Linked DNA regions of Homo sapiens. The protein of the gene in region 1 purifies or fractionates together with the protein of each later gene. This does not show direct contact. Each region holds a gene or a part of one and is shown in the gene's direction. Other genes may lie near its edges. The genes, in order: METTL2A, PHGDH, CPNE7 and PCMT1.

What was found.
Region 2: the proteins of METTL2A (region 1) and PHGDH purify together in Homo sapiens (pull-down; one large-scale study listed by IntAct). This does not show direct contact.
Region 3: the proteins of METTL2A (region 1) and CPNE7 purify together in Homo sapiens (affinity purification with mass spectrometry; 2 studies listed by BioGRID and IntAct, with this or other methods). This does not show direct contact.
Region 4: the proteins of METTL2A (region 1) and PCMT1 purify together in Homo sapiens (pull-down; one large-scale study listed by IntAct). This does not show direct contact.

The regions. Positions count from the first base shown.
Region 1 is NC_000017.11:62,439,912-62,444,751, forward strand, and holds part of METTL2A (tRNA N(3)-cytidine methyltransferase METTL2A), read left to right. Parts: intron 1-705; coding exon 706-845; intron 846-4,840.
Region 2 is NC_000001.11:119,721,048-119,725,887, forward strand, and holds part of PHGDH (D-3-phosphoglycerate dehydrogenase), read left to right. Parts: intron 1-122; coding exon 123-274; intron 275-2,328; coding exon 2,329-2,394; intron 2,395-3,271; coding exon of another isoform or gene 3,272-3,402; exon of another isoform or gene 3,403-3,422; intron 3,423-3,737; coding exon of another isoform or gene 3,738-3,828; intron 3,829-4,840. UniProt on the Homo sapiens protein: Catalyzes the reversible oxidation of 3-phospho-D-glycerate to 3-phosphonooxypyruvate, the first step of the phosphorylated L-serine biosynthesis pathway.
Region 3 is NC_000016.10:89,589,077-89,593,916, forward strand, and holds part of CPNE7 (copine-7), read left to right. Parts: intron 1-820; coding exon 821-875; intron 876-1,930; coding exon 1,931-1,982; intron 1,983-2,050; coding exon 2,051-2,184; intron 2,185-3,121; coding exon of another isoform or gene 3,122-3,124; exon of another isoform or gene 3,125-4,840. UniProt on the Homo sapiens protein: Calcium-dependent phospholipid-binding protein that may play a role in calcium-mediated intracellular processes.
Region 4 is NC_000006.12:149,786,592-149,791,431, forward strand, and holds part of PCMT1 (protein-L-isoaspartate(D-aspartate) O-methyltransferase), read left to right. Parts: intron 1-3,362; coding exon 3,363-3,467; intron 3,468-4,840. UniProt on the Homo sapiens protein: Initiates the repair of damaged proteins by catalyzing methyl esterification of L-isoaspartyl and D-aspartyl residues produced by spontaneous isomerization and racemization of L-aspartyl and L-asparaginyl residues in aging peptides and proteins.

The DNA.
Region 1 (4,840 bases):
ATTCCTCACTGTCTCCCTTCAATTATTCCTGATCTTTACTCTTTGAGTCCTCCCTGAAATAACATGCTATTAGATTGATGCAAAAGTAATTGTCGTTTTTGCCGTTACTTTTTTTTTTTTTTTCTTTTTTTTAGATGGAGTTTCACTCTTGTTGCCCAGGCTGGAGTGCAATGGTGCAATCTCGGCTCACTGCAACCTCTGCCTCCTGGGTTCAAGCGATTCTCCTGCCTCAGCCTCCCGAGTAGCTGGGATTATAGGCATGTGCCACCACACCCAGCTAATTTTGTATTTTTAGTAGAGATGGGGTTTCTCCATGTTGGTCAGGCTGGCCTCGAACTCCTGATCTTAGGTGATCCTCCCGCCTTGGCCTCCCAAAGTGCTGGGATTACAGGCATGAGTCTCCACATCCTTGCCATTACTTTCAATAGCAAAAACCGCAATTACTTTTTCACCAATCTATATAATGATTAGAAATATATCCCCTACTCTGGAGGGTGAGGCAAGTGATCCTATCGCGTGAACCCAAGAGTTTGAGGCCAGCCTGGGCAACATGGGGAGATTTTGCCTCAAGAAAAAAAAGAAAAAAGAAATATATCCCTCTTTGTGAAGTAGCAACAGTTACATTTAAAATTTAAAACAAGATAATCTTTTCTTTAGGCTATGTTAATATTTTCTAACTTACCTGTGTCTTCCATCTGTCTGCAGACAAATTCAGAATATGATCCTTCTCGGTGTTTTGCCTTTGTTCACGACCTGTGTGATGAAGAGAAGAGTTACCCAGTGCCCAAGGGCAGTCTTGATATTATCATTCTCATATTTGTTCTTTCAGCAATTGTTCCAGACAAGTAAGTTTGGGTCCCTTGGCTGGTAGTGTCACAAAAAGGAAGCTTTGGTGAGGGACCTTTTTTTTTAAAATAGGTTCTTGCTCTGTCAGCCCAGGCTGGAGTGCAGTGGCACGATCATGGCTCACTGCAGCCTTAACCTCTTGGGCTTAAATGATCCTCCCTCCTCAGCTTCCCAAGTAGGTGGGACCACAGGCACGTGCCACCAGTCCTGGCCAATTTTTGTGTTTTTAGCAGAGATGGGGTTTTGCCATGTTGCCCAGACTGGTCTTGAATTCCTGGGCTCAAGCGATCCTCCCACCTTGGCCTCCCAAAGTGCTGGGATTATAGGTGTGAGCCACCATGCCCAGCCTGGCGAGGGACCTTGATATTAGAGTTGGGCTCAAAGTAAAAAGAGTTTTGTTTATGTTCTGATAGACACAAAGAAGCCACACCATTTGTAGTGATGTGAGCATCTCAGCCATTTTCCTAAATTTGTCTTGATGTCCAACTTCTGTTCTGGCCTCGAAACTTCTGCAGTAGTTGGTTCTTCATTTCCTTGTTGTGGCTCAACATTGGGAAAGAATGGGAAATCAGTCTCTAATGAGTATGTGGGGAAATTCCTATTGATAGTCTCATCACATGCCGTTTTAGAACTGTGAACTGTGGGTGTCACAGCTCTTAGGTAATGTCTCATTATTGGATTTTTATTTTATTTTATTTTATTTTTTTGAGATGGAGTCTTGCCCTGTCGCCTGGGCTGGAATGCAATGGCGTGATCTAGGCTCATTGCAACCTCCACCTCCCCGGTTCACACAATTCTCCTGCCTCAACCTCCCGAGTAGCTGGGATTACAGGCACCTGCTACCATGCCCAGCTAATTTTTGTATTTTTAGTAGATGCGGGGTTTCACCATGTTGGCCAGGCTGGTCTTAAACTCCTGACCTTGTAATCTGCTTGCCTCAACCTTGCAAAATGCTGGGATTACAGGCATGAGCCACTATGCTGGCCTTTTTTTTTTTTTTGAAGACGGAGTCTTGCTCTGTTGCCCCGGCTGGGGTGCAGTGATGAGATCTTGGCTCACTGCAACCTCCACCTCCCGGGTTCAACCAATTCTCCTGCCTCAGCCTCCCAAGCAGCTGGGATTACAGGTGTACGCCACCATGCCTGGCTAATTTTTGTATTTTTTTTTTTTAGTAGAGATGGTGTTTCACCATGTTGGCCAGGCTGGTCTCAAACTCCTGACCTCATGACCTCATGATCCGCCCGCCACGGCCTCCCAAAGTGCTGGAATTACAGGCGTGAGCCACCACGCCCAGCCTATTGGCCTTTTAAATGCTTTAAATAAAACAACCTTATTAGCAACATGAAATTTACATTGAACCTTAACTAAGGTGTTCTCTGATGCTTACAGTGTTTTAGGAAAGTGTGATACAGAATTCTATAAAATCAGATTCAGATTAAAGGAAAGTCAAATGCTATATCCTAAAATACACCATTAAAACTTCATATGCATAGGTAACCAGTGGTCCTGTGACACTACCTTCTCTTTTTTTTTTCTGAGATGGAGTCTCACTCTGTTGCCCAGGCTGGAGTGCAGTGGTGAGATTTCAGTTCACTGCAACCTCTGCCTCCAAGGTTAAAGCGATTCTCCTGCCTCAGCCTCCCGAGCAGCTGGGATTACAGACAAGCACCACCACACCTGGCTAATATTTTTTGTATTTTTAGTAGAGACGGGGTTTCACTATGTTGGCCAGGCTGGTCTTGAACTCCTTACCTCAAGTTATCCACCCACCTCGGCATCCCAAAGTGCTGGGATTACAGGCATGAGCCACTGCAACCTGACCAAAACTACCTTCTCAAGGAAGCAGAGTCAGATGGTGGCTCAGAGATTCAGATACCATTGACTAATTCCATGGAAGCCCTTGGCACTGCCAGAGTGCAGTGAGTCTGGACAGGCTGGGGGTTGGCACATGTTAGGGTAAACTATACCCATGAAATCATGAGATTAGAGACTTCAAACATCTCCTCATTCTGTGTCATCAGAGTCCTGCAAAGGATGATTAAGTAAGTTAGTGTTAAAGGTCAAGGTAAGCTGGTGTTAGGAAGCCAGATTACATGACTAGAGACTGCAGGGACCAGTGATTGAGATCCTGGTTTATCTCCCAGAGTCCAAGGACCCCTCACTGGCTGCACAGGATAGGAGCTTTGGGTGATTGACCTTCCTCTAGAAGGCCACACTTCCTCTAGAAGGGTACTGAAGTCATCCAACCTGAGAGGATGAGTGTGAAATAAAGGCATATGCAGGATAACCCAAAAGGCCTACCATGGTTTTAAACTTTAATAATTGCAGAGGTTGACCAGGCACAGTGGCTCACGCCTATAATCCCACCACTTTGGGAGGCTGAGGTGGGAGGAGTGCTTGAAGCCAGGAGCTCAAGACCAGCTTGGGCAACAAAGCAGGACCGTTATCTCTACTAAAAATAAAAATAAAAAAATTTAGCCAGGTGCATATCTGTAGTCCCAGCTACTCAGAAGGCTGAGGCAGGAGTATGGCTTAAGCCCAGGAGTTTGAGGCTGCAGTGAAGTGAGCTACGATCACACCACTGCACTGCAGCCTGGGTGACAGAGTGAGACCCTGTCTCAAAAAAAACCTATGACCTTAGAAGTTTCAATGCTACAAACTTTTTAAAAATTGACATGGACTAAAACAAATTATTAAAATTTAAAATTCAAGCCAGACACAGTGGCACACACTTTTAGTCCCAGCTACCTAGAGACTGAGGCAGGAGGATCACTTGAGCCCAAGAGTCCAGCCGAGGCAACATAGCATAGCAGGACCCCAGCTGTTTTTTGTTTGTTTGTTTGTTTTCTGAGATGGAGTTTCACTCTTGTTGCCCAGGCTGGAGTGCAGTGCTATGGTCTTGGCTCACTGCAATCTCCGCCTCCCAGGTTCAAGCGATTCTCCTGCCTCAGCCTCCCAAGTAGCTAGGATTACAGGTGCCTGCCACCATCCCTGGCTAATTTTTTTGTATTTTTAGTAGAGACAGGGTTTCACCATGTTGGCCAGGCTGGTCTCGAACTCCTGACCTCAGGTGATCTGCCTGCCTTGGCCGTTTTTTTGTTTTTTGGTTTTTTTTAAGAGGGAAACATTCATTATGCAAAATTTAAATAGACTTTGAAATTTTTTTGGTGAAGTTTGTAGCATTTAGACTTCTGAAGTTATGAAAGCTTCAACCTGCACCAAGACTTTTGAAGAACACTGCATATGGAAAACACAGACCTAAGTGTAAAACCCTCTGTCTGTTATACTCATTTGCATACTGATTGTATTGTAAGTTCTTGAGGACAAGTCTTCATTTAACAAACAGAAAGATACAGCCCCTACATTGAAAGAGCTCAGGTCTAATGATGCAGGCAGATAAGTCACCTAGCAGAACCCACTGGATGCTCAGGATTCAGCTCAGCCACAGGCGCACAGGGCAAAGATGGCTATCTAGGACAGTGGGGAAGTGAGCCAGATAGAGAGCAGAGAACTTTTGTTTGTTTGTTTGTTTTTTGGAGACAAAGTCTCAGTTACTCTGCGGCCCAGGCCGGAGGGCAGTGGTGCAATCTTGGCTCACTGCAACCTCCACCTCCCAGGTTCCAGAAATTCTCCTGCCTCAGCCTCCTGAGTGTCTGGGATTACAGGCACACGCCACCACACCTGGCTACTTTTTGTATTTTTAGTAGAGATGGGGTTTAACCATTTTGGCCAGGCTGGTCTCAAACTCCTGACCTCATGTGATCCACCTGCCTCAGCCTCCCAAAGTGCTGGTATTACAAGCATGAGCCACCGCACCCGGCCAGGAGCAGGGAACTTTCTTACGGCAGAAGCGGGCTGTCCTCGGGCCCCTTCAGGCTGAAGGCAGTGGATCGAGGCCACAGCTGTGAGCAGGCAGCTAATGTCCTTCAGTTCTAACTGAAGCAAGAGTAGAGGAGCTTAGATCTCAGACTTGGTGTGTCAGTTGAGGAAGTCC
Region 2 (4,840 bases), on another chromosome or scaffold:
ATCAGTGACTTCCTAAGGTTCCGGAAATGCATCTCTTACTCAGGAGTAAGCAATGATGTGCCTGCGGCTTTACGAGTTCTCACAGAATGACTTTCTGGACCCAAATGTTTTTTCTGCTTCAGGACTGTGAAGGCCTTATTGTTCGCTCTGCCACCAAGGTGACCGCTGATGTCATCAACGCAGCTGAGAAACTCCAGGTGGTGGGCAGGGCTGGCACAGGTGTGGACAATGTGGATCTGGAGGCCGCAACAAGGAAGGGCATCTTGGTTATGAAGTAAGTCATGGAGGCTGCGGGCGGTTTGGGGGTAGGGGGGTGAGTGCGGAGACTGACCACACCTAGGGAGAAAAAACTCACTTGAGAGAAAGCTGAGTCCATTGGAAGGGCTTCCAGGAGGATGCCTGGTCTAGGGCCTGCATGGTCAACACACACAGCATAGTGGTTTCAAGGTTTTTGGAAGGCAGCTATGCTCACCACTATATCACCAATGCCATCAGGGTGTTACACAGTTTTTGAAATTGAGAGTCCCTGCATAATCTCAAAATGTTTCACGAGCCCACCCCATGCGCAGTTGCTTGCACCTCTGTGACCTGGTTCAGGAATCGGAAGGTCAGTGAGTTCATCTGCATTTCCTGCTCCCACCCAGCCCCCTCTGCCTCTATTAATGCTGTTTGTGGCAGGTTTTTGTCAGCTCTACTTTACTGTGCTTGTACAGAGGCACAACCTTTGCTAGCAGACTAATGACTAGAATCCTTGCCCTCCCCACTTCCCTGCCACCTTCTGGAACTAAGACACTAGTTTCTCTTTCAGTGCTCTAGGGCAAGAGGAGAAGGGTCCCATTTAAAGCTGTTTCTGCAGAAACACAGGGGCAGAGGTCATCAGCACGCCAGTGCTGTACTGTACCCGTTCTGTCACTTAGATGGTATGGCAAGGCCATCCCCAGGCCTCTTTGTTCTTAAGACTTTTCTCTTCCCTTGGGGACTTCATTGTCCTTAAGACCTTTCCCCTCCCCTGCACTGCACTTCCCCCTGTAGGGTAGAGGTTAATTGGTCACCTGACTGAAGTCAATATTCAACAGCAGAAATGTTAAACGATAACCCATCCCACATTCTTGCCTTGGACCCAGAGGCAGCCAGGCCCCAATCTCTGCACCTCTACTTGCGCCCCCATACAGCCTGTTTGCTGTGGGAGGATGAGAAGCCAGGTGGTTTTGCAGGCAGACAGACTCTGAGAGTCCGTTTATCTTATACAGGATCTCTTGACTTTTTCTTCTTGTAACCTTATTAACCTTCATTCCAGAGATGAAAAAGACAGACCCAGTAGGGGAATAATCAGGGTGAACACGTATATGAAATTCTTTCAAAAACCTAAAAAGCATTTAAGAAAAGAAAAATAGTTTTGTGGGTTGCCACCTCTATTTTTTTGTTTATAAAATGGGAAGGGTCTGGATTGCCCTGTGACTTAGGGTGTGAGGAGGCTTTCTCAGTTCAGAACTTGTTGAGAGATAGGAAGAGTAGTCAGACAGGTGGAGATTACTAATAAAAGCTAGGTTGGGGCTGCGTGTGGGGGCTCACACCTGTAATCCCAGCACTTTGGAAGGCCAAGGTGGGAGGATCACTTGGGCCCAGGAGTTTGAGACCAGCCTGGGCAACAAAGTGAGACCCCCATCTCTACAAAAATACAAAAAAAAAAAAAGAAGGAAAGAAAAGCCAGGTATGTTGGCACCAGCCTGTAGTCTCAGCTACTGAGAAGGTTGAGCTGGAAGGATTGCTTGAACCCTGGGAAGTCAAGGCTGCAGTGAGCTGTGATCATGCCAGTACACTCCAGCCTGGGTGACAGAGCGAGGCCTTGTCAAAAAAAAAAAAAAAAAGCCAGGTTGGGTAACTTGATGAAGATATGTAGGCATTGGACTGAGCCCTGAATTCGAGAGACTCTGACCTTGGTAAGATCAATGGTAGGAGCAGCAGGGAATTTGTGCTTTCTGGAGGCAGGTAGATCCTGAAATAGGAGAAAGAAAAGGGCTGAACCACACACAAATCTGATCATGTGAGACACTTCTCTGCCTTGGGAGGAGTGTTTGGATAGAGAGAAGCCAGATATGTTTCTCTAATGGAGGTCCCTCTGCAGGGAAACATAAAGCCAGGGGAAGGGGGTTTCTTTCCAGCCCTTGGCTTAGGGCGAGAGTACATCAGAGAACTCTGGACAGTGGCGTGGTCAGTTCATGGAGCAGGAGTGAGAGAACACAGCCTGCACTCAAGGCTTTCTCTTGGGGAAGGAGTGGGAATACTGGGTCTGTGCCCATTGATGTCCCCCTTTTCTTTGATCTTTAGCACCCCCAATGGGAACAGCCTCAGTGCCGCAGAACTCACTTGTGGAATGATCATGTGCCTGGCCAGGTAAGTCCCTGACTTCTCAGCAAAGCTAGTCTCTCCGATATGCCAATTATTACCACTTGCCAAGCAAATGGACCCAGAAAAACTTAGAAACATTTCGTCTCAGCGACTTGCAGACTGCTAAGAAGGCGACATGCAGACTGCAAAGAACCTTTAAGGCCATCAGGTCCTCTATTCAACATTCATTACACAGGTTCCCTAGTGCACAAAGGTGCACTTCTCTTTACTCATGTTCTATTCTCCATGCTGCAGACAATCTGCCTTCTCTAGCCTCCAACTCTTGCAAATGTTCTCCATACCCTGCTGCCTGGAGATAACAAGGAAGGATGTTCCAGGCAGCAGGGTATGGACAGTGTCTAGGTACCCTCTGCTTACTTTTCAAGATTAAGCTTCAGTATTAATTTATCCAAGAAGCTCTCTGGCTTTTCCAGCTAGGCTATGTCCCTCACTGATTCCCCTGGCCCTCAGGGCTTATCTCTGTCACTGCCCTTACAAATCTGTATTGTAATAGAATGGAGTAAGAACCTGCTTCAGGGTCCTTGTGTGTTCTGTGGGTTCATAACACAATGGAACTCAAATGGGCAAGACTCTTGCTCTTCTAGCAGGAGTTCCAGGCCTCTTGAGTGGATGGGGCAGCCTAGAAATCAAATGGTTGTGGCACAGAATGTGCTTGAGTCTCAGTGTGTTGGTTAGTAATTTGGCAAAACTGATTGCATGGAGCACTTCTGTTGAACAGGCAATTCAAGCATTTATGTGGTCAAGGGGAAGAACAAGGCTCCCAATAAACAGGGTAGGAAGTTGTTCTAGGTCCCTTTGAAGCTCCATGGATTCCCTAAACCAGCGGACCTAGGCATCAAGGACTCCTTGTTTCTCTACTCAGGCCTGAAACCTTCCGGGACCAAGAAATTACTTTTCCCATGGCGAGACCTGCTTTCCCTCCTGCTGGAGGAGGATCTGGGGGAATTTACCTCTGCTCTAACTCCTCCCTGCAGTTTCCATCTGAGCTCTCTGGTATTCACTGATATTCACTGGTAGGTGAAAGGAGGCAGTGGGGGGAAAGGAGAAACAGGGATAGCTTACACAGCAGTAGGGTCTCAGCCTAGAAGGGGCCCCCAGGCTGGCAGCCGGGTTCTCCCAGAACATCTAGGCTGAGTGTCTCTCCCCCTGGAGAAGTACAGAAGCCTGGCACCCTGGTTTCACTTCAGCTATTACCTTCAGGGATTTTTTTTTTTTTTTTTGAGTAAGGGAAAAGATCTCAATGTGGCTTTCTGATTAATTACCTCACTTTTTTTCTGGAGGTGGAAGGAAAGGATTGGGAGCCAGCAATACTTTCCCTCCTTTTCCAGGACCAGCTTTGTTTAAAGGAATCGGTGAAATGCTGTGGTTTAAAAGAAGCTCCCCATTGTCAACTGCTCACCATGACCTCACTCATCAAAGGTGCATCAAAACTAGGAAACACGCACACCCTATTGGGAAGGAATGCGTTCGTTTCATCAGACTGTTCCTAGCAGGGAGGACGGTAGGAGAGTGTGGGTGCCTATATGTAGACTCTACAGGATTGGGCAATGTGGGTGGAGAGCAGGCGTGGCTGGGCCTCACAGTAGGGACTTTGAGCAGATGGCGGGGGCTCCTGAGGTGCAGAAGAACAGCACACAGAAAGGAAGGAAGGAGAGAATCAACAAATGTAGGTTTCACCATTTTTGCCTGCTTTACCATCTCCTCCTCTAGTAAGTCAGGCCAGCAACCATTTAATTATTGTGAGGACCCTCGCCCACATTAGAGTCCTCTCCAGTCTGGCCTGATGAGGATTCCAAAGCATTGAAACCTGGAGAGGCTCCATGATCAGCTGGGAGCAGCAGCCAGAGAAAAGGGTTAGGGATTTCTTGTGTTCTGTGGTGCCGCACGCATACATCTTAGATAGCACTGTGGAGTCTGGTGGGAAGAAAATAGGATGTGAGGGAGAGGAGAGAGGGGCCAGGTGGGGCTCTGTCTCACTAGGTCAAAGGCATTTTATCAGGCAAGCTTTCCCAAGAAGTGAACAGTTCCTCAAGGCAAGTCCCTGTCCTTATTACCTGCCTGATGGGTCAGAGCAGTGAGGTGAATGCAGCTTGTCCCCCATGTGGCTTGGTACTGAAGTTCTTCTGAGTTTACCCATAAGATCGTGCGCCTCTGTGATGGAGGACAGATTCCACCTTCAGCCTTACCCTCAGATGGAGATCAATGTCCTAGTGATGTGTAGAGATGAGAGAATGTTTTTGTGTTAGAAGTTAGTGAAGTGAAAGCACGGAAGTAGCAGCTTGAGATTTCTCTTTTTGCACGCTCGCTCACTCTGAGGTTTTTGGCATCAGGTTAAAGGCCTACATTTAAGTACTCAGGAGGCTGGCCGTGCTGGGGTTGACTTTGCTGGCTTTGAATCTGTTCAAGTGCCTCCAGTTGGGTGATCTGGGGA
Region 3 (4,840 bases), on another chromosome or scaffold:
AGGTCAGGAGTTTGAGACCAGCCTGGCCAACATGGTGAAACCCCATCTCTACTGAAAATACAAAAATTAGCTGGGCGTGGTGGCAGATGCCTGTAATCCCAGCTACTCAGGAGGCTGAGGCAGGAGAATCACTGGAACCCGGGAGGCGGAGGTTACAGTGAGTCAAGATCACACCTTTGTACTCAAGCCTGGGTGACAGAGCAAGACTCCGTCTCAAAAAAAAGAGACTCTGCGAGGAAGGGCTGGGTAGCCCTACTGGAGGCTGCCGCATAGACTCTGCACATGGTCCTGGGGGGACGTCTGTGTCCCGCTTTGCCAGAATAGCAAACCGAAGTCACAGAGGCTTGGGGCTCACCCGCGTATGCTTTACCAGGGAGGGCCCGGCACAAAACCCTGTGCTCTGAGCTTCTTACCACAACACAGACCCCTGGCCTGGGGCTTGGGAGAGGATGCCCTGAGCTCCCTACCCTACAGACCTCTCTTTCTGGGTTGGTGAGGGCCACAGTGGGTTCCTTGGCCCCACAGGACCCCTCCCGTGGTCTGAGAGCCCCCGGGGAGGCGTCTGCAGGGGGACAGCATGTACACAAACGTGGAGTTGGGAGGCAGGCTCGCGGGCGGCAGGACCGTGTCCCCTTGCACACAGGCCTGTGCCTCTGCTGCCCTGAGCCTCGGTTCCCCACCTCTGGCAGGTGCTTACTGCCGTGGTACCAGGCCTGGGCACCCCCAGTCTTTTGGGCGCCAGTCATGTCTCCCTAGAAGTGGCCCCTGTTGCAGCCACAAGAGGTCAGGGCCTCCTGGTGACCTCCTGCCTCTCTTCCAGTGACAAGAGGTTTTCCGCTTTGGGGTTTGGAGCCCGGATCCCTCCCAAGTATGAGGTAGGAGAGCCCAGAACCTGAGACCTCAGAGCTGTGCCCTTCTCGTGCCCTCCCAGGCAGAGGACGGCCTGGCCCAGGGAGCCCTGGCTGCCTGCTGGGAACCGGAGACTGTAGGATGGGATTGGGGTGCAAAGCGGGAACCCCAGCCTTCTAGCCAGAGAGGCTGGCCTTTGGCCTCCTAGGACTTGTTAGCTTGAGGGGTGTCTGGAGGCCAACTCCGTGTTCCTTCAGGAGATAGGGAAGGACGTTAGTGTGGAATCCTCTATTGCACATAACAATTCAGCTAGCTTCGGCCAGGCGTGGTGGCTCACGCCTGTAATCCCAGCACTTTGGGAGGCCGAGGCGGGCCGATTACCTGAGGTCAGGAGTTCCAGACCAGCCTGGCCATCATGGTGAAACCCCATCTCTACCAAAAATACAAAAATTAGCTGGGCGTGGTGGCACATGCTTGTAATCCCAGCTACTCGGGAGGCTGAAGCAAGAGAATTGCTTGAACCCGGGAGGCAGAGGTTGCACTGAGCTGAGATCGCACCACTGCAGTCCAGCCTGGCCTGTAGAGCAAGACTCTGTTTTAAAAAAGAAAAAAGAAAACAACAAAAAACTTCAACTGGCTTCAGCAGAAAAAATGGTGTGTGGGGATTTATTGGCTAATGTAAGCCTCAGGCACTGCTGGATCCAGGGAGGTCTGCCTCCCTCTCTGTTTCATGACTCTGCAGAACATGGTCACCCATGGGTTTGGCTTCCCCTAGAAACTCCAAGCCTACCTCTCTCAGTAGGTGGGGGACATGGGGGCCAGGTCGGGGGAGCAGCTGACTGGGGGACATGGGGGCCGGGGACGGGGGGAGCAGCTGACTGGGGGACATGGGGGCCGGGGACGGGGGGAGCAGCTGACCGAGCCCTCTTTAGTAGGCGGGGGACATGAGGGCGGGGACGGGGGGAGCAGCTGACTGGGGGACATGGGGGCTGGGGACGGGGGGAGCAGCTGACCGAGGGACATGGGGCCAGTGGGGTGTGTTGCAACGAGCAGCTGACTGAGCCCTCTTGTTCCCACCCAGGTGTCCCATGACTTTGCCATCAATTTCAACCCTGAGGACGATGAGTGTGAAGGTAGGAGCTCGAGGCAGGCCTGGGGAGGGGAGTGCAGGGGGGCCGGGCTCACCCCCTGCCCCCCACAGGCATCCAGGGCGTGGTGGAGGCCTACCAGAACTGCCTGCCCAGGGTCCAGCTCTACGGCCCCACCAACGTGGCGCCCATCATCTCCAAGGTGGCACGCGTGGCGGCGGCCGAGGAGAGCACCGGGAAAGCCTCTGTAGGTGCCCGGGGGGTGTGGTGCATGCTTGGTGTGGGGTCGGCTGTGTGTGCACCAGCGCGTGGACGTCAGGGAGGCACCTGGCAGAGGGAACAGCCAGCGCAGAGGCCCCCAGGCAGGACAGAGCTCAGGAGGGCGGGGGCCCAGCTGGTTGACTACGTCTCCCTCAAAGGTGCAGGTGTCTCGGGCACAGGGCTGTCCATCGCCTCACACGGTCACGGCCATGGCTGCAGCGAGGCTGCCCCTCTCCTCTTCCTCTGGGCACCACAAGGCCGCGCACATGTCTACTGTTTGGCTGTGTGTGTATCGTCATTTTGTTTACATGTGTCTTTCCTTTGCACAAATGATACGGTGCCGAGAACTGCACTGGATTCTACTCTGCCACCGTGTGGCCCTGTATGTGTCTCTGGGGCCACAGCCAGCCTGCTGCTTTCTTTTCTTTTCTTTTGTTTTTTGTGAGACAGAGTCTCACTCTGTCACCCAGGCTGGAGTGCAGTGATGTGATCCCAGCTCACTGCAACCTCTGCTTCCCGGGGTTCACGCCATTCTCCTGCCTCAGCCTCCCAAGGAGCTGGGACTACAGGCGCCCGCCACCACTTCTGGCTAATTTTTGTATTTTTAGTAGAGACGGGGTTTCACCCTGTTGGCCAAGCTGGTCTCAAACTCCTGACCTCATGATCCACCCGCCTCGGCCTCCCAAAGTGCTGGGATTACAGGCGTGAGCCACCGTGCCCGGCATTCTTTTTTTTGTTGTTTTTTTTTTTTGAGACGGAGTCTCGCTCTGTCACCCAGGCTGGAAGTGTAGTGGCGCAATCTCCGCTCACTGCAACCTCCCCCTCCCAGGTTCGCGCCATTCTCCTGCCTCAGCCTCCTAAGTAGCTGGGACTACAGGCGCCCACCATCATGCCCGGCTAATTTTTTTTTTTTGTATTTTTAGTAGAGACGGGGTTTCACCGTGTTAGCGAGGATGGTCTCGATCTCCTGACCTCGTGATCCACCCGCCTCGGCCTCCCAAAGTGCTGGGATTACAGGTGTGAGCCGCCGCGCCCGGCCCAAAATAATTTTAAACTCACCAAAAAGTTACAAGAGCTCTGAGGTCCTGCAACCCGTGAGGCCAACAGCTGCTCACACATTGCGCTCCTGCTTCACGTCTGTGTAGTTGTTGTATTTGTATGTTTTCTTTTTCAATTTTTTTTTTTTTTTTTGAGATAGAGTCCTGCTCTGTCACCCAAGCTGTAGTGGTGCAATCTCGGCTCACTGCAAGCTCCACCCTCCGAGTTCAAGCAATTCTCCTGCCTCAGCCTCCCGAGTAGCTGGGATTACAGGCTCCCGCCACCACGCCCGGCTAATTTTTTGTATTTTTAGTAGAGACGGGGTTTCACAGTCTTGGCCAGGCTGGTCTTAAACTCCTGACCTTGTGATCCACCCGCCTCGGCCTCCCAAAGTGCTGGGATTACAGGAGTGAGCCACCGCGCCCAGCCCAAATTTTTTTTATTGTGATAAAATATGCACAGTTTAAAATTTACCATTGTAACCATTTTTTTCTTTTCTTTTTTTTTTTTTTTTTTTGAGATGGAGTTTTACTCTTGTCACCCAGGCTGGAGTGCAGTGACGTGATCTCGGCTCACTGCAAGCTCCGCCTCCCGGGTTCACGCCATTCTCCTGACTCAGCCTCCTGAGTAGCTGGGAGTACAGGCGCCCGCCACCATACCCGGCTAATTTTTATATTTTTGTAGAGATGGGGTTTCACTGTCTTGGCCAGGCTGGTCTCAAACTCCTGACCTCAAGTGATCTGCCTGCCTCAGCCTCCCAAAGTGCTGGGATGGGATTACAGGTGTGAGCCGCCGCACCTGGCCTGTAACCATTTTATTGTATCCAGTTCAGAGGCACGAGGTACATTCATGATGATCAAACATCACCCGTCTACTTACATCTTCAAGCCAAATGGGAACCCTATATCTGTTTGCATCTATTTTTAATTTATACAGATAGTATCGTGATAAAGACTTTGATGCTTTTTAAAAAACTTGGCACTGCACACACACATTTGTGAACCGTCCGAGAGCACGTTGCAACATCACGGTTTTACCTCTTAATATTTTTTTTTTTTTGAGATGGAGTCTCGCTCTTCACCCAGGCTGGAGTGCAGTGGCGCGATCTTGGTTCACTGCAAGCTCCGCCTCCCGGGTTCACGCCATTCTCCTGCCTCAGCCTCCCAAATAGCTGGGACTACAGGCGCCCGCCACCACGCCCGGCTAATTTTTTGTATTTTTAGTAGAGACGGGGTTTCACTGTGTTAGCCAGGATGGTCTCGATCTCCTGACCTCGTGATCCGCCCACCTCGGCCTCCCAAAGTGCTGGGATTACAGGCGTGAGCCACCGCGCCCGGCCTACCTCTTACTATTTCAGTGTATATTTCCTAAGATCAAAGATATTCTCTTGTATAACCATAGCACAAATACAGATTTCAGGAAATTGAATTTAGATACAATCCTTTTATCTAATACATAGACTATATTCCAATTTCATTCATTGGCACAATCATAACTTTCAAAGCAGTATTGTTCCTGGCCCAGGAGCCAGTCCGGAGTCGAGGATTGCGTTCAGCTGTTATGTTCCTGTGTGGCTGGGAAGCGGGTCTCAGACGGTTTCATCT
Region 4 (4,840 bases), on another chromosome or scaffold:
CTCAGATGGGGCGGCCGGGCAGAGACGCTCCTCACCTCCCAGACGGGGTCGCGGCCGGGCAGAGACGCTCCTCACCTCCCAGACGGGGTCGCGGCCGGGCAGAGGCGCTCCTCACATCCCAGACGGGGCGGCGGGGCAGAGGCGCTCCCCACATCTCAGACGATGGGCGGCTGAGCAGAGACGCTCCTCACTTCCTAGATGGGATGGTGGCCGGAAAGAGGCGCTCCTCACTTCCTAGATGGGATGGCGGCTGGGCAGAGACGCTCCTCATATCCCAGACGGGGTGGCGGCCGGGCAGAGGCTGCAATCTCGGCACTTTGGGAGGCCAAGGCAGGCGGCTGGGAGGTAGAGGTTGTAGCTAGCCGAGATCACGCCACTGCACTCCAGCCTGGGCACCATTGAGCACTGAGTGAGCGAGACTCTGTCTGCAATCCTGGCACCTCGGGAGGCCGAGGCTGGTGGATCACTCCGGTTAGGAGCTGGAGACCAGCCCGGCCAACACAGCGAAACCCCGTCTCCACCAAAAAAATACGAAAACCAGTCAGGTGTGGTGGCGCGCGCCTGCAATCGCAGGCACTCGGCAGGCTGAGGCAGGAGAATCAGGCAGGGAGATTGCAGTGAGTTGAGATGGCGGCAGTACAGTCCAGCTTCGGCTCGGCATCAGAGGGAGACCGTGGAAAGAGAGGGAGACCGTGGGTAGAGGGAGACCGTGGGGAGAGGGAGAGGGAGAGGGAGCGGGAGCGGGAGCTGGCTGTTTTCATTGATAAAATAGTTATAATTTTTTTTTTTTTTTGAGACGGAATCTCGCTCTGTCACCCAGGCTGGAGTGCAGTGGCGCCATCTTGGCTCACTGCAACATCCACCTCCCGGGTTCAAGCGATTCTCCTGCTTCAGCTTCCCAGTAGCTGGGATTACAGCCGCCACCACGCCCGGCTAATTTTTTGTATTTTTAGCAGAGACAGGGTTTCATCATGTTGGGCAGGCTGGTCTTGAACTCCTGACCTTAGGTCATCTGCCCGCCTCGGCCTCTCAAAGTGCTGGGATTACAGGTGTGAGCCACCATGCCCGGCCCAAATGTTTTTAAATCTTTGACATAATTTCTGACTTACAGAAATATTATGCAGATAGTACAGTTCCTGTGTACTTTTGTCCACACAGTCTTACCATTGGTAAAGCAAATCTCACCATTTGCTTTATCATTTATTCTCTCTCCCTTTATCCCCTCTCTCCTCTGTGTGTGTGTGTGTGTGTGTATGTGTGTGTATTATATTTCCGTTTTTCTGAGCTCTTTGAGGGTAAATTACAGGCATAATGCTCTTTACCTTTAACTTTTTTTGAGATGGAGTCTTGCTCTGTCGCCCAGGCTGGGGTGCAGTGGTGCAGTGGCACGTTCTCAGCTCACTGCAAGCTCCGCCTCTCGGGTTCACGCCATTGTCCTGCCTCAGCCTCCCAAGTAACTGGGACTACAGGCGCCCACCACCACGCCCAGCTAATTTTTTGTATTTTTAGTAGAGATGGGGTTTTACTGTGTTAGCCAGGATGGTCTCGATCTCCTGACCTCGTGATCCGCCTCGGCCTCCCAAAGTGCTGGGATTACAGGTGTGAGCCACTGTGCCCGGCCAATGCTCTTTACCTTTAAAAATAAGGACATTCTCTTACATACCCATAGTACAATTTTTGAAATCTGGAAGTCAGCATTGATATAACACTATTAGCCAATTTATAGACCTTATTCAGATTTCATCAATTATTCTGATAATATTCCTTATAGGAAAAGAAAATAGTAGATTGTGAGTTTTATTTGATTGTCATGTCTTTTTAGTTTCCTTTAAAGAATGACTGAGAAATGGTTCCTTATTCTTTTATGACCTTGAAAACCTTGAAAATTTTTACGAATATGGGCCATTTATTTTGTATAATGTCCCTCAATTTGGGTTTGTTTGATGTTTCCTCATAATTCAATATAGGTTATGCATTTTTGCCTGGCATATCCCAGAAATGAAGTATCTTAGCAGAGGCATTTGATGTCAGTGTGTCCCATAATTGTGGTGTTAACTTTGATCATCTGATTAAGGTAGTGTTGACCCAGTTTTTCCACTGGAGAACTTTTTTCTGAACTCCATTGTAAAATTACTATTTTTCCTTTTGTGATTAATAATTATCTGGGGCAAACCCTTTGAGATTATGTAAATATCCTGTTTATTTTTCAAATGTTAGTCCACTAGTTTTAGCTTCCATTTATGATTTTTACCTGAATCAATCAGTTATTATTGAGATGGCTGCCCAAAGGCTGATTTTCTTAATTTTTTCTATGTGCATTCATTATGTATCTATATATTTGTTGGGAACGGTTTTCCCTATTTTTCATTTATATATGTATAGAATGATGTATTAATTTATCACTATAGATTAATGGATGGGTATTTTTATCAACCAAGATCTGGTAGTAAATGTGTTTACTGCTATTGGATCTGATTTTTTTTTTTTTTTTTTTTTTTTTGAGATGGAGTCTCGCTCTGTTACAGCCCAGGCTGGAGTGCAGTGGCATGATCTCGGATCACTGCAATCTCCCCGTCCCGGGTTCAAGCAGTTCTCTGCCTCAGCCTCCCGAGTAGCTGGGATTACAGGTGGCTGCCACCATGCCCAGCTAATTTTCTTGTATTTTTAGTAGAGATGGAGTTTCACCATCTTAGCCAGACTGGTCTTGAACTCCTGACCTCGTGATCTACCTGCCTCAGCCTCCCAAAGTGCTGGAATGTCAGGCCTGAGCCACCACGCCCAGCCTGATCTGATTATTTTTAATAATGAGAATACTGGCTGGGTGTGGTGGCTTATGTATGTCATCCCAGCACTTTGGGAGGCCGAGGTGGGCGGATCACCTGAGGTCGAGAGTTCGAGACCAGCCTGACCAACATGGAGAAACCTCATCTCTATTAAAAATACAAAATTAGCCTTTGTATTTTTGTATTTGCTTATATATGCAAAGAATCTATTCCTTCCTTTTTGGAAGGAGTCACAAGAAACTAGTAATATTGGTTACCTTTACAGAGTGAAACCTGGATGGTTGGAAATGGGAGTAGGGTGGAGACTTTTCACTTATAAATCTTTTAATTTTTTTACTGAATTAATTAAAAGTTAAAAATTCACACACTGGAGGTCTAAAATTACTGAAACACATGATCTGAATGTAAGAATTCTAATCAAACAGTTTACTTAAGTAATACCTGGGCAGATAGCCAAGATAACTTGGTTATCTTGGTAGATGACAATAGTAGAAAAATTGGTAGAAAGTTGGCAACTTTATTTATATACCATGATGTGTGTACTTTAGTCTTAATGAATATTTTGTTTTCTTTTGGCAGCATGCATATGCGCTAGAACTTCTATTTGATCAGTTGCATGAAGGAGCTAAAGCTCTTGATGTAGGATCTGGAAGTGGAATCCTTACTGCATGTTTTGCACGTATGGTAAGAGTTTTATTTCTCACTCTGGCCCCAACAGAAGAATATTATATGATTTGGCTGTATGTTTTTTTAACTAGTGGTTTTCATGTTTATTTGTTTGTTAATTCTATTAGGATAGCAGTTGGAATGAGCATCACTTAGGATTTTGTTGTTGTTGCAAGTGACAGAACATGCAACCCAAACTGGCAGAGCTAAAAGGGAGTTTATTTAGTTCATATAACAGAAAAGTCTAGGGGTGTATACGGTCTGTTGTGTGGCTGGATTTAGAAGAGCAGATGTTGTTATTGACGATAGGGTTCTCTCTGTTTCTTGATTTGGCTTTACTTTCCTCCACATGTTGGTGTCATTATCCGGTAAGCTCTACCCTTGTAATCACAAGATGGTGGCCAGTAGCTCCCAAACTACCTTCTTCCAAGTTCTGATTTGGCAGAAAAGAATAGAATAAGCCTGGTTTTCTTTTCTTTTTTTTTTTTTTTTCTTCTTAAAAACAGAGGTTTTATTGCATTTGGTCCACAGTTGGTATTTCACCTTATCTCATGGTGCAGGGACCCTGGGTAGGGGACTCTCTACAGTACTTGGTGGGGCATGTGGCTGGGGGAGACAGAGCAGTATAGCTGGTCAGGCCCAGAAGGGGAGAAGGAAGGCTGGAGGCTCCTTAAAACCTACTGAGGGACCAGACGCGGTGGCTCACACCTATAATCCCAGCACTTTGGGAGGCTTAGGCAGGCAGATCACATGAGGCCAGGAGTTCGAGACCAGCCTGGCCAACGTGGTGAAACCCCATCTCTACTAAAAATAGAAAAATTAGCCAGGCATGGTGGAGCACCTGCAGTCCCAGCTATTCAGGAGGCTGAGGCAGGAAAATCCCTTGAGCCCAGGAGGTGGAGGTGCAGTAAGCCTTGATTGCACCACTGCACTCCAGCCTGGGCAACAACAACAACAACAAAAACCTACTGAGGCACAGTGTGGGGGGTGGGCTTAGCATGGAGAGGGGGTCAGGCTTAGCCCCGACAACTCAGAATTCTACTTCCTTGTACAGGCCTCAGTTTCCCCACCGGGCCCTGGGACATGTCTGAGGGTCCCAGGGAAATCCAGTCACTCAGGAGCCTGAGATATTTAGCATCGTAGCTGGGCCCCGTCTCCCAGGGGACTCATTTCCCAGCACCCTCTCCACTGTCCCTGCCCAGAATGAGCCTGGTTTCTAAACATTCCTGCAGATTTACCAGGATGAAGGTAAAACTTCTGCATTAGAAAAAGTGCTCTTAGAAAAATAATGCCTTGTTATACTTCTGCCTTTTCTCATCAGAGTCTTATCTGGTCAATGGCTATCCAGAGTATTAACTGGGGACCCACTAATATATGTTGGAGTAAAGGTT